3 linked regions of the Homo sapiens genome follow. The protein of the gene in region 2 purifies or fractionates together with the protein of the main gene of each other region. This does not show direct contact. Each region holds a gene or a part of one and is shown on either strand. Other genes may lie near its edges. The genes, in order: TUFT1, CYTH4 and CWC25.

What was found.
Region 1: the proteins of CYTH4 (region 2) and TUFT1 purify together in Homo sapiens (affinity purification with mass spectrometry; one large-scale study listed by BioGRID and IntAct). This does not show direct contact.
Region 3: the proteins of CYTH4 (region 2) and CWC25 purify together in Homo sapiens (affinity purification with mass spectrometry; one large-scale study listed by BioGRID and IntAct). This does not show direct contact.

Annotation. Positions count from the first base shown.
Region 1 is NC_000001.11:151,578,221-151,581,260, forward strand, and holds part of TUFT1 (tuftelin), read left to right. Parts: intron 1-500; coding exon 501-606; intron 607-1,428; coding exon 1,429-1,512; intron 1,513-2,721; coding exon 2,722-2,822; intron 2,823-3,040. UniProt on the Homo sapiens protein: Involved in the structural organization of the epidermis. Involved in the mineralization and structural organization of enamel.
Region 2 is NC_000022.11:37,288,863-37,292,515, reverse strand, and holds part of CYTH4 (cytohesin-4), read right to left. Parts: intron 1-3,653. UniProt on the Homo sapiens protein: Promotes guanine-nucleotide exchange on ARF1 and ARF5. Promotes the activation of ARF factors through replacement of GDP with GTP.
Region 3 is NC_000017.11:38,815,208-38,818,860, forward strand, and holds part of CWC25 (pre-mRNA-splicing factor CWC25 homolog), read right to left. Parts: intron 535-3,653; exon of another isoform or gene 418-534; intron 1-417. UniProt on the Homo sapiens protein: Involved in pre-mRNA splicing as component of the spliceosome.

The sequences.
Region 1 (3,040 bases), on a different chromosome or scaffold from region 2:
AGTTATCCAGAATGACTTATCCCTTCTAACCTTTCCGAGCCTCAGTTTCCTCTCTTAGACTAGGTGATCCCTGATGATGCTTCCAATGTAATATTCTTTTTTTTTGTGAGACAAAGTCTTGCTCTGTCACCCAGGCTGGAGTGCAGTGGCGCCATCTTGGCTCACTGCCACCTCTGCCTCCTGGGTTCAAGCGATTCTTGTGCCTCAGCCTCCTGAGTAGCTGGGACTACAGGCACACGCCACCACACTTGGCTAATTTTAGTATTCTTAGTAGAGGTGGGGTTTCACTATGTTGGCCAGGCTGGTCTTGAACTCCTGACCTCAGTGCTTCCAATGTGATATTCTAAGGTACCCACCACCTACTCTTCAGAGCAGCCTACCAGGGAATCAGGCAAAGGGAATCATATTAATGGGAACCTCCCAAGCTCAAGGCTCTTCCTGTGACTGGGTAAATAAGTGATCTTGTTCCATTGCCTCAGCCTTCTGGTCTTTATCCCCAGGGCTGCTACCCTGGAAAAGGAAGTGGCCGGGTTGCGGGAGAAGATCCACCACTTGGATGACATGCTCAAGAGCCAGCAGCGGAAAGTCCGGCAAATGATAGAGCAGGTAAGTTGGGCTGGTTTGTAACCTGCCCTCGGGGAGTCACCCCAAGTCTATGCTCTTATTTGTTTCCTAGGGAGCTTGACTTATATTCATGCATTTCCCATGTCAAACATTTATAGCTACCAATTACCAGGTTCAGGTTATTAGGATTTGCTTTTCTCCCATCTTTCCCCTACTGTTTTGTTTGTTTGTTTGCCATTTGGCCTCTGCTTTCCAATAGGAAAGGAAGGAAAAGGTTAATTTGTCATATACTCTGTGAAGAGTGTGGGTAAATGAGTAGTTGAGTCATAATAAACTCTGTTATCTGTGCAGATTATCAGTCTTTGAGCCTCATGGCTGCTTTCCTGCCTTACCCCACCTGAGCTTGAGGGTAGCATACTTAGGATTTGTCTATTTGCAGAATTGTTTTGAGAGCCTAAGGCCCCATAACTGGGAGGCTGTATGTGCTTCATGTCAGCTCCATTAGTGTCTGTTTTATTTAGTGCTGTTTTCCATTATCTCGAACAGAGTCAGTCATATAGTAAGTACTCAATAAATATGTCTTGAATGAAAAAATAATTTGTATTTTCCAAAGCCATATGGAATGGGTTTTGTCATTCATTATTTTGGATTCTCAGGGTGGTATTCCCCTCACACACTCCTCACTCCCACCCCTGGGATAATCAAGAGTCTAATATTGACTGAAAGGAGGCCTTTGTAGAAAAGCTAATGAAGTCATATGGAGTTGCAGGGCTCTGCTGCCTTCCCCAGCAGCTGGGGTGAAGTCTGGTGAGTGTGTAATGAGTCATTGCAAAATGAGCTCCAGTGTCTCCCACACCTTTGCAGCTCCAGAATTCAAAAGCTGTGATCCAGTCAAAGGACGCCACCATCCAGGAGCTCAAGGAGAAAATCGCCTATCTGGAGGCAGAGGTGTGTGTGCTGGGCAGCCCAGCAGGGGAACAGGACTCTTGAAGAGAAGGTGGACATAAGGGAGACAGAGGTTATGGGAGGGGTCTTTGTCATGTCTTGCTGTTGCTCTGAAGTGAATACCTAGGGTGGTTGGTTGACTTTCAGTTCAGCTGAATAAACATTTTCTGAGAACCTTCAGGAAGCTGCTAACAATGATGAGATGACCACCCCCCTGGCCCCACCTTCAACGGACATGTCATCATGGTGCAAGCCACATGCCATGGCTGCACACGGCTAATTCTGACCCTCCAGGCTTTGCAAAGGAGCTGGCAGTGGTGCTGGGCTGTGAAGGAGGAGGAGGCATTCATACAGATGGAGCCTTTTCCAGGGCTAGATTACGTAACGAGTTGCCTTCCTAGTCTAATTTCCACTTTGCCACAGGGCCCTACCTGTCTGTTGACTACCTGAAGATCACTTTGCGAACGCTCTGTGAAGATCCCCTGTAGTGAGGGAGAAAAATGGGAGAAAGGGTTATCTTTAGAGAGTTTGCAGTCTATAGTCAGAGATAAAATGTGTATTTTTAAAAAGACCAAAGAATGCTTTATAGAATAGCGTATCAACAAAGGCAAGTGAGTATCTCAACTGAGGACAAAAAATTATATATAGGGGCCAGGTGCAGTGGCTCATGCCTGTAATCCCAGCACTTAGGGAGGTTGAGGCGGTAGGATTGCTCGAGGCCAGGAGTTCAAGACCTAGGCAACATAGTGAGACTTTGTCTCTGAAAAAGAAAAAATTTTTTTAATTAACCAGATGTGGTGGCATGCATCTGTAGTCCAGTTACTTGGGAGACTTAAAGGAGAGGATCACTTGAACCCAGGAGGTCGAGGCTGCAGTGAGCTATAATCACGCCACTGCACTCCAGCCTGGGCAACAGAGTGAGACCCTATCTCAAAAAAAAAAAAAAAAAAAAAAGAACTGTATGTAGAGGACATATAGGAAACCATCAGTCTGTCAGTGTTGTACAGAGTTATGGAGGAGCAGGTATTGGAGGATAAGCGCAATCTATGGTAATGAAGATGAGGCAAGTGGGTATCCAGGTGGTGGCACGCATGGTGGGGGTAGAGGCAACAGCAGCATAAACACAGGCAGAGAGACCAGAATGCACTAGCTGAACGTGGCACCCGGGAAGCCAGAAAAAGGCCAACTCTAACCCCTAAGCTTGTGTTACAGAATTTAGAGATGCATGACCGGATGGAACACCTGATAGAAAAACAAATCAGTCATGGCAACTTCAGCACCCAGGCCCGGGCCAAGACAGAGAACCCGGGCAGGTGAGTGAGCGTGTGTAGATAGAATGGGGCCAGGGAGGAGGGGAGAAGGAGGGACAGAGCTCTGTAGAACCTTTAGTGCTAAGGCAAGAACAAGGCTCCTTTAAATCCAACTTTCCTCCCTCAGTCTGACCCACTGTTTGCCGGAACCATTTTCTAGCCCAATTAGAGTAGAACCTGTTAACACAAGCCCAGGGAGGTCCATGAATGGCTTCTAGAGA
Region 2 (3,653 bases):
TTCACAGAGGCCCACCTCCTCCAGGAAGCCTCCCCTGACTGCCCTGTCTAAAGCAGCCCCTGCTCCCTCCTCTCCTGCCCTGCTTCCTGTTTCTCCCACCCCCCTGGATAGACACCCCCAAAAGGATCCTGTTTCCTTGCATCTTTTCTGTCCCTCCCGCTAGACTCTCGGCTCCATGAGAGTTCAGTTGTTCTACTCTTTTGCTCACTACTGTGTCCCCAGCACCTAGAAAGAGTCTGACATGTCATAAGCACTCAGTTAAACACTCGCTGAAGGCACGCATTCCTTCCCCGGAACTTGAATCTCCTCCTCCACTGGCTCATGGGCTCATTATTTATTCACTTATTTATTTGAACAACCAAGAAGTGGTATACCATTTTCCTCACATCCCATTGGCCAGAATGTAGTCACGTGGCCACACCTAGCTGCAAGGGAGGCTGGGAAATGAGCCTGTAGCAGGGTGGTCCTGATGTCCTTACTGTGTAAAATGGGGAGGCTGGATTTGGGGGATATTTTATAGTCCCTGCCCCTGGATACTGGGGCTCAGAGAGGTGAGGTGACTCAACCCACAGGGAAAAGGTCACTGAGCCAGGATGGGACCTTGAATTGGGCTGACTCCAAAGCCTGTGCTCTTTCATCTCCACTTGGAAATGAATTAAATGAAATAAGATTTGTGTGTGCGGCATTCTATGCAAGGTGCTGTGATGATGCCCACAACTAGGTCAGCTGTCCTATCTTCATGCTTCATGGTGGCTTCTGTTTCATCCACAACACTCTCCTTCTCTGAGTAATATGGCCTCCCTATTACTCAGAGAGAAAGTCTTCATCCTGGGCCTGGGGCCTCCACAACCTCTCCAGCCTTGGCAGCCAGACTTATTCCCTGCCATTCCCAAAAAGAGCCTGCCAGTCCAGCCTGCCAGCTCCTTCCTGCTCCAGAGCCATCCAGGACTCAGTCCCACTTCCCCATGTTTGCCCAGGCCGCTCCTGTACTCTGGGATGCCTTCTCCTGTCTGCCTGCCCAAATCCTCGCTGACCTTCAAGTTCCAGCGTCGGGAAGTGCCTGGCCGCATTTCTTAAAGGTTTTACAAGGATAGACATCATTTCCTCCAAAAGAACACAGAGGGAATGTTGAGCGCTCCCTTTCCCTACTTCTCCTTCTCATGATTAAGCAGGCATTGTGGCTGTTGAGATTAAAGCCCCATGCGGAGATGCAGGGCACCAGGCTAGATGGAGCCCAGGTCCCCAGGCAGCGGTGTGGAGAAGACTCATCATGTTCACCTGGCCCACCTATCCATTTGGACTTTTCAATAAGAAATAAATCAGTTTTGAGAATGTTTCGGTTGCTGTTATTCTGAGTCTCTTTAAGCAGCTAAATCTGAGATATACCTAATACAGCATCCTCATCTGTGAAATGTGAACCATAACCCTTGCCTCACAGGGCAGCTGTCAGGAAGGAAAGAGCTACACTTTGTCAAACACCCAGCAAGAATCCAACATATGCTGAGTCCCACATGTGTGCAATGGGTGCTGTGTGCATCTGGCTCTTCTCTTCAGGACCAAGGCACCATCCCCCCAGCTGCTGGGAGGAAAGCCTGCTGATGGCTCACAGCTGAATCCCTCCCCAGACACTAGCCTCAGCCAAAGGGAGGTGCCACGCCCAGGAGTTCCCCTGACCAAGGGCAGCCACTGCAATAAAAAGCCAAGTCCCGGTCAGGCAAGGTGGCTCACGCCTCTAATCCCAGCACTTTGGGAGGCCGAGGCGGGCGGGTCACGAGGTCAGGAGATCGAGACCATCCTGGATAACACAGTGAAACCCCATCTCTACTAAAAATACAAAAAATTAGCCAGGCATGGTGGTGGGCACCTGTAGTCCCAGGTACACCGGAGGAGGCTGAGGCAGGAGAATGGCGTGAACCTGGGAGGCGGAGCTTGCAGGGAGCCCAGATCATGCCACTGCACTCCAGCCTGGGCAACAGAGTGAGACTCTGTCTCCAAAACAAAACAAAACAAAACAAACAAAAAAACCCAAGACCCCTTGCCTGGTTTCAGGACCTACCCCAGTTTTCAGATACAGAACGTCGGGACTGAAGGAGAGGCTGGGTTCCAAGGGAAGAGTCCTGCAACATTGTGGCAAGTATATATGGCAATGACTCCCTGGTTCCACATTAAAACACCTGTGGCCATTCACTCCAACAACTGTACACTGGGGAAAGAGCAATATCCAAACATTCTGAGGATTGTTGGACACAGGATCCAAGTTGACATCAGCGCTCAAGACTGAAGTGTCTTCAGGGCCACATTTGAGTGGGGGTACATAGAGACCAGGTGGTAAATGAAGTCCTTCCAGGTCCAGCTCACTAGGGGTCTGCTTGATTCATGGCCACTTTCCTGGCCTACAGATGTAGAATTGGAATGGACATCGCTGGTACTTGAGCCCATATTGGTACCTTGGCCCATGGGGTCAGGATCATTGTAGTGGGAATAGCTATTTGGAAATTTATGAAGCTGACCCATCATCCCCACAGCGAAGAGACTAAATAAAAAACTATATCCTGAGGGGAATGGCAGGTGTGGGTGCCACTCTTGAGACCTAACGGATGCAGGAGCAATGGCCCTCATCACATACCCAAGCACTTCCCCGGTCGGGAGGATGGCCTGCTCCTTCCAGCTGCTTCCTTCTAGCAGAGAATTATATACTATGCAGAAAACAGTTCCTGGAATGGCACCGGGTCCTGGTAGAGATAGAGTGCCAGCCCACGGAACATCATGTAACTAAGTAGCTCAGATGGCTCCATCTGTCCCACTAAGTCAGAAGGTCAAGCGAGCCCAATAGTAACCCTTTGTGAGTGGTACGTCCAGGAGCAGGTGTGAGCAGAGCCAGAGGGCTCCAGTAGGCTCCAGGGATAGGTGGCCCAGATCCTCATGTCACCGCTGCTGGTGGACCAGGGTCTATCCCTCTGCTTACACCGTGACCACATGGGTGGGTCCCTTATGACTTTCTAACAACAGAGGAAAATGCCCAAGGCTGGTTGCAGAATGAGTTGGCTCAGAGTTTGGGCGCAAGTGAAAACCAGGCAGCTACTGAACTACAGTCCTGCTCAAAGGTGTCCTGGAAAGACAGTGATGAGGGCAAGTCCTCCCAGGGGGCAGGGCTTCAGGCAGGGCACCTGGCCATCCACTTCCTGTGGAAAGAGAAGTGACTTCTTGAAGTCAGAATATCCATGCATCATGGGCAGTGGTGAATGGCTTGACTTCTTGGTCAGAGGCAAGAAAGAAGGAAGATGGGAAGATCAGAAACACAGATGTCAGGAGAAGAGGCAGGTGGATGACCCCGTGGGAGCGGAATGTCCACTCTGCCAGCAACAGGGACGCATGCTGAGCCCATCTTTTCTCCAGAAGACCAGGGGGCAAACTGATTCCATGAAACCCCTTCTATTCTGCAAAAGTCAACAATCCATCTTGTCTGGAGTCGACACGTGTTGGAAATGTGTTTGCCTTTCCTGCCCACAGAGCCTCAGCCAGCACCACTATCCAGAGGCTTAGGGTGTTTGACCCACCAACACAGCACACCACATAACATCACAGAAGACCAAGGGATGCTCTCTACAGCAAAGGTGGTCTGAAGTGAGCACGTGGCCATGAGATCCACCGAT
Region 3 (3,653 bases), on a different chromosome or scaffold from region 2:
ATTCTACTGGCACCTACCATGCAATAAACACGGCACCCCATGTGGCCGGCATAAAGAAATAGTGCGGGTTGCGTGCAGTGGCTCATGCCTGTAATCCCACCATTTTGGGAGTCCGAAGCGGGTGGATCACTTGAGGTCAGGAGTTCGAGACCAGCCTGGCCAACATGATGAAACCCCATCTCTACTAAAAATACAAAACATTAGCCAGGCGTGGTGGCGGACGCCTGTAATCCCACCTACTCAGAAGGGTGAGGCAGGAAAATCACTTGAACCTGGGAGGCAGAGGTTGCAGTAAGATCACGCCACTGCACTCCAGCCTGGGTGACGGAGCCAGACCTTGTCTCAAATAAATAAATAAATAAATGGTGCTTGTCCTCATGAGGCTTACGAGTGAATGGAGAGAGAATATTCACTCACATAAAGCAATTTATAAGGAAAACCAGTGTTCCTCAACATGGGGTGTGGATCTTGGCTCAGAGCTTCTCGAGTCTCCTTTACAGAGTCTTTATATTATGCTTTCATTTCCAAGATGACCTAAAACAATGAATAAGCACATTCTACATCACCATCTTACCATCAAGAACAATTTCAGTGACCACATACGCAGTTGCATTGATTGTGCATCTTGGTGCTTGTGGGCACACAGACACCAGCGGTAACACTACACATTTGAGGGGATGATGGGAAAAAATCAGAGGTAACTGAATAAGTGACGCTTTCAAGCCAAAAGAGCCAAACACTGAATACGTGAATCATTAGGTAACTATCTGGGTTTCACAAGTGAATAAACCCTGGTCTCAGCCATCTAGGGGCCAAATTAAGTCACAGCATCATGCCACACAAACATTTCCCTGCGGTTCTGGGAGAAAAAAGTGGTGAGAAAGTGGAACCCTCATACCACAGACAGTAAAGGCAGGCTAAATTCATAAGAGCATGCGTGGAAGCAGCCAATACTACATTCACACTGCAACCAGGAAAGTACTTTCATTGACAGTATTATCTATAACCTGAAATTAAATGCTTTTTGAATATGACTTTTTTGTTCTTTTTTTTCTTTTAGACACAGGGTCTCACTCTGTCACCCAGGCTGGAATGCAATGGTGCGATCATGGCTCACTGCAGCCTTGAATTCCTGGGCTCAACAAATCCTGCCTCAGCCTCCCAAGTAGCTGGGACTACAGGGATGCACCACCATGCCTTGCTGATTTTTTATTTTTTCAATTTTTAAACAGATGGGACTTGCTATGTTGCCCAGGCTAGTCTCAAACTACTGGCCTCAAGTGATCCTCCTGCCTCAGCCTCCCAAAGTGCTGGGATTACAAGGGTGAGCCACCATGCCCAACCTGAATATGACTTTTTAAATGTGTATACTTGTTTTTGAGGTTATATAACAACTGTGAGCATAAAGAATGTTTTCCTAGTTGCATGCTTGGACATTTTTGGTAAGAATAATTTAAACCAACACTGCAGGGCCATGACCCTTTTTTTTTTCCCCCAGACAGAGTTTCACTCTGTTGCCCAGGCTGGAGTGCAGTGGAGCGATCTTGGCTCACGGCAACCTCTGCCTCCCAGGTTCAAGTTATTCTCCTGCCTCAGCCTCCCGAATAGCTGGGACTATAGGCATGTGTCACCAAGACTGGCTAATTTTTTGTACTTTTAGTAAAGACGAGGTTTCACCGTGTTGGCCAGGCTGGTCGATCTCCTGACCCCGTGATCTGCCAGCCTTGGCCTCCCAAAGTGCTGGGATTACAGGCGTGAGCAACCGTGCCTGGCCCCAAGACCCTTTAGAATTTTTTTCATATTAAAAAAATGAGTCTGAGAAACACTGTAGTCTACAGTTAAGAACTGATCAGCTGGGCACGGTGGCTCACACTTATAATCCTAGAACTTTGGGAGGCCAAGACAGGCTGATCACGAGGTCAGGAGATCAAGACCAGCCTGGCCAACACAGTGAAACCCCGTCTCTACTAAAAATACAAAAAACTAGCCAGGCGTGGTGGTACACGCCTGTAGTCCCAGCTACTCGGGAGGCTGAGGGAGGAGAATCGCTTGAACCCGAGAAGTGGAGGTTGCAATGTGCTGAGATCATGCCATTGTACTCCAACGCAGGTGACAGTGCGAGACTCGGTCTCAAAAAAAAAAAAATAAGAATTGATCATGGGGCCGGGCGCTGTGGCTCACACCTGTAATCCCAGCACTTTGGGAGGCCTAGGCGGGCAGATCACTTGAGGTCAGGAATTCAAGACCAGCCTGGCCAACATGGTGAAATGCCATCTCTACTAAATATACAAAAAAATTAGGCCAGGCACAGTAACTCACGCCTGTAATCCCAGCACTTTGGGAGGCAAAGATGGGCGGATCACAAGGTCAAGAGACCAAGGCCATCCAGGCCAACATGGTGAAACCCTGTCTCTACTAAAAATACAAAAATTAGCTGGACCTGGTGGCGTGCATCTGTAGTCCCAGCTACTCGGGAGGCTGAAGCAGGAGAATCGCTTGAACTCAAGAGGCGGAGGTTACAGTGAGCCGAGATCGCACCACTGCACTCAAGCCTGGTGACAGAGCGAGACTCTGTCACACAAAAATAATAACAATAATAATAATAATAATTAGCCAGGCGTGGTGGCACACGCCTGTAATCCCAGCTACTCAGCAGACTGAAGCAGGAGAATTGCTTGAACCTGGGAGGTGGAGGCTGCAGTGAGCGGAGATTGTGCCACTGCACTCCAGCCTGGGAGACAGAGCAAGACTCTGACTCAAAAAATAATAATAATAATAATAAATAATAGGCCGGGTGCAGTGGCTCACGCCTGTAATCCTAGCACTTTGGGAGGCTGAAGCGGGCAGATCACAAGGTCAGGAGTTCAAGACTAGCCTGACCAACATGGTGAAACCCCATCTCTACTTAAAATACTAAAATTAGCCAGGCGTGGTGATGTGCGCCTGTAATCCCAGCTACTCAGGAGGCTAAGGCAAGAGACCCGCTTGAACCCAGGAGGCAGATGTTGCAGTGAGCCAAGATCGCACCACTGCACTCCAGCCCGGGCGACAGAATGAGACTCCATCTCAAAAAATAAAATAAAATAAATAACAAAAATAAAACCAGCCGGGCACTGTGGCTCACATCTGTAATCCCAACACTTTGGGAGGCCGAGGCGGGCGGATCATGAGGTCAAAGATCGACACCATCCTGGCTAACACAGTGAAACCCCGTCTCTACTAAAAATACAAAAAATTAGCCGGGCGTGGTGGCGGGCGCCTGTAGTCCCAGCTACTCAGGAGGCTGAGGCAGGAGAATGGCATGAACCCGGGAGGCGGAGCTTGCAGTGAGCCGAGATCGTGCTGCACTCCAGCCTGGACAACAGAGCGAGACTCCATCTCAAAAAAAAAAAAAAAAAAAAAAAAAAGAACTATACAAAACAAACAGATGAATACTTAAGTCATCTAAATACATTAGCAGTAAAGACCAAAAAGAGAAGGGGCAGAGAGAACCAAATGCTGATCTTAGTGTTTTACAATATTGTAGGACATGTGATAGGGCAAAACAAAACAAAGCATATAAAATCACCTTCCCCCATTCACGACAGACAAGCAGGCATGAGTCTGCAACAATGCTGGCTCCTTTCTCTACAGTTGTGCATCTGTACTCTGAC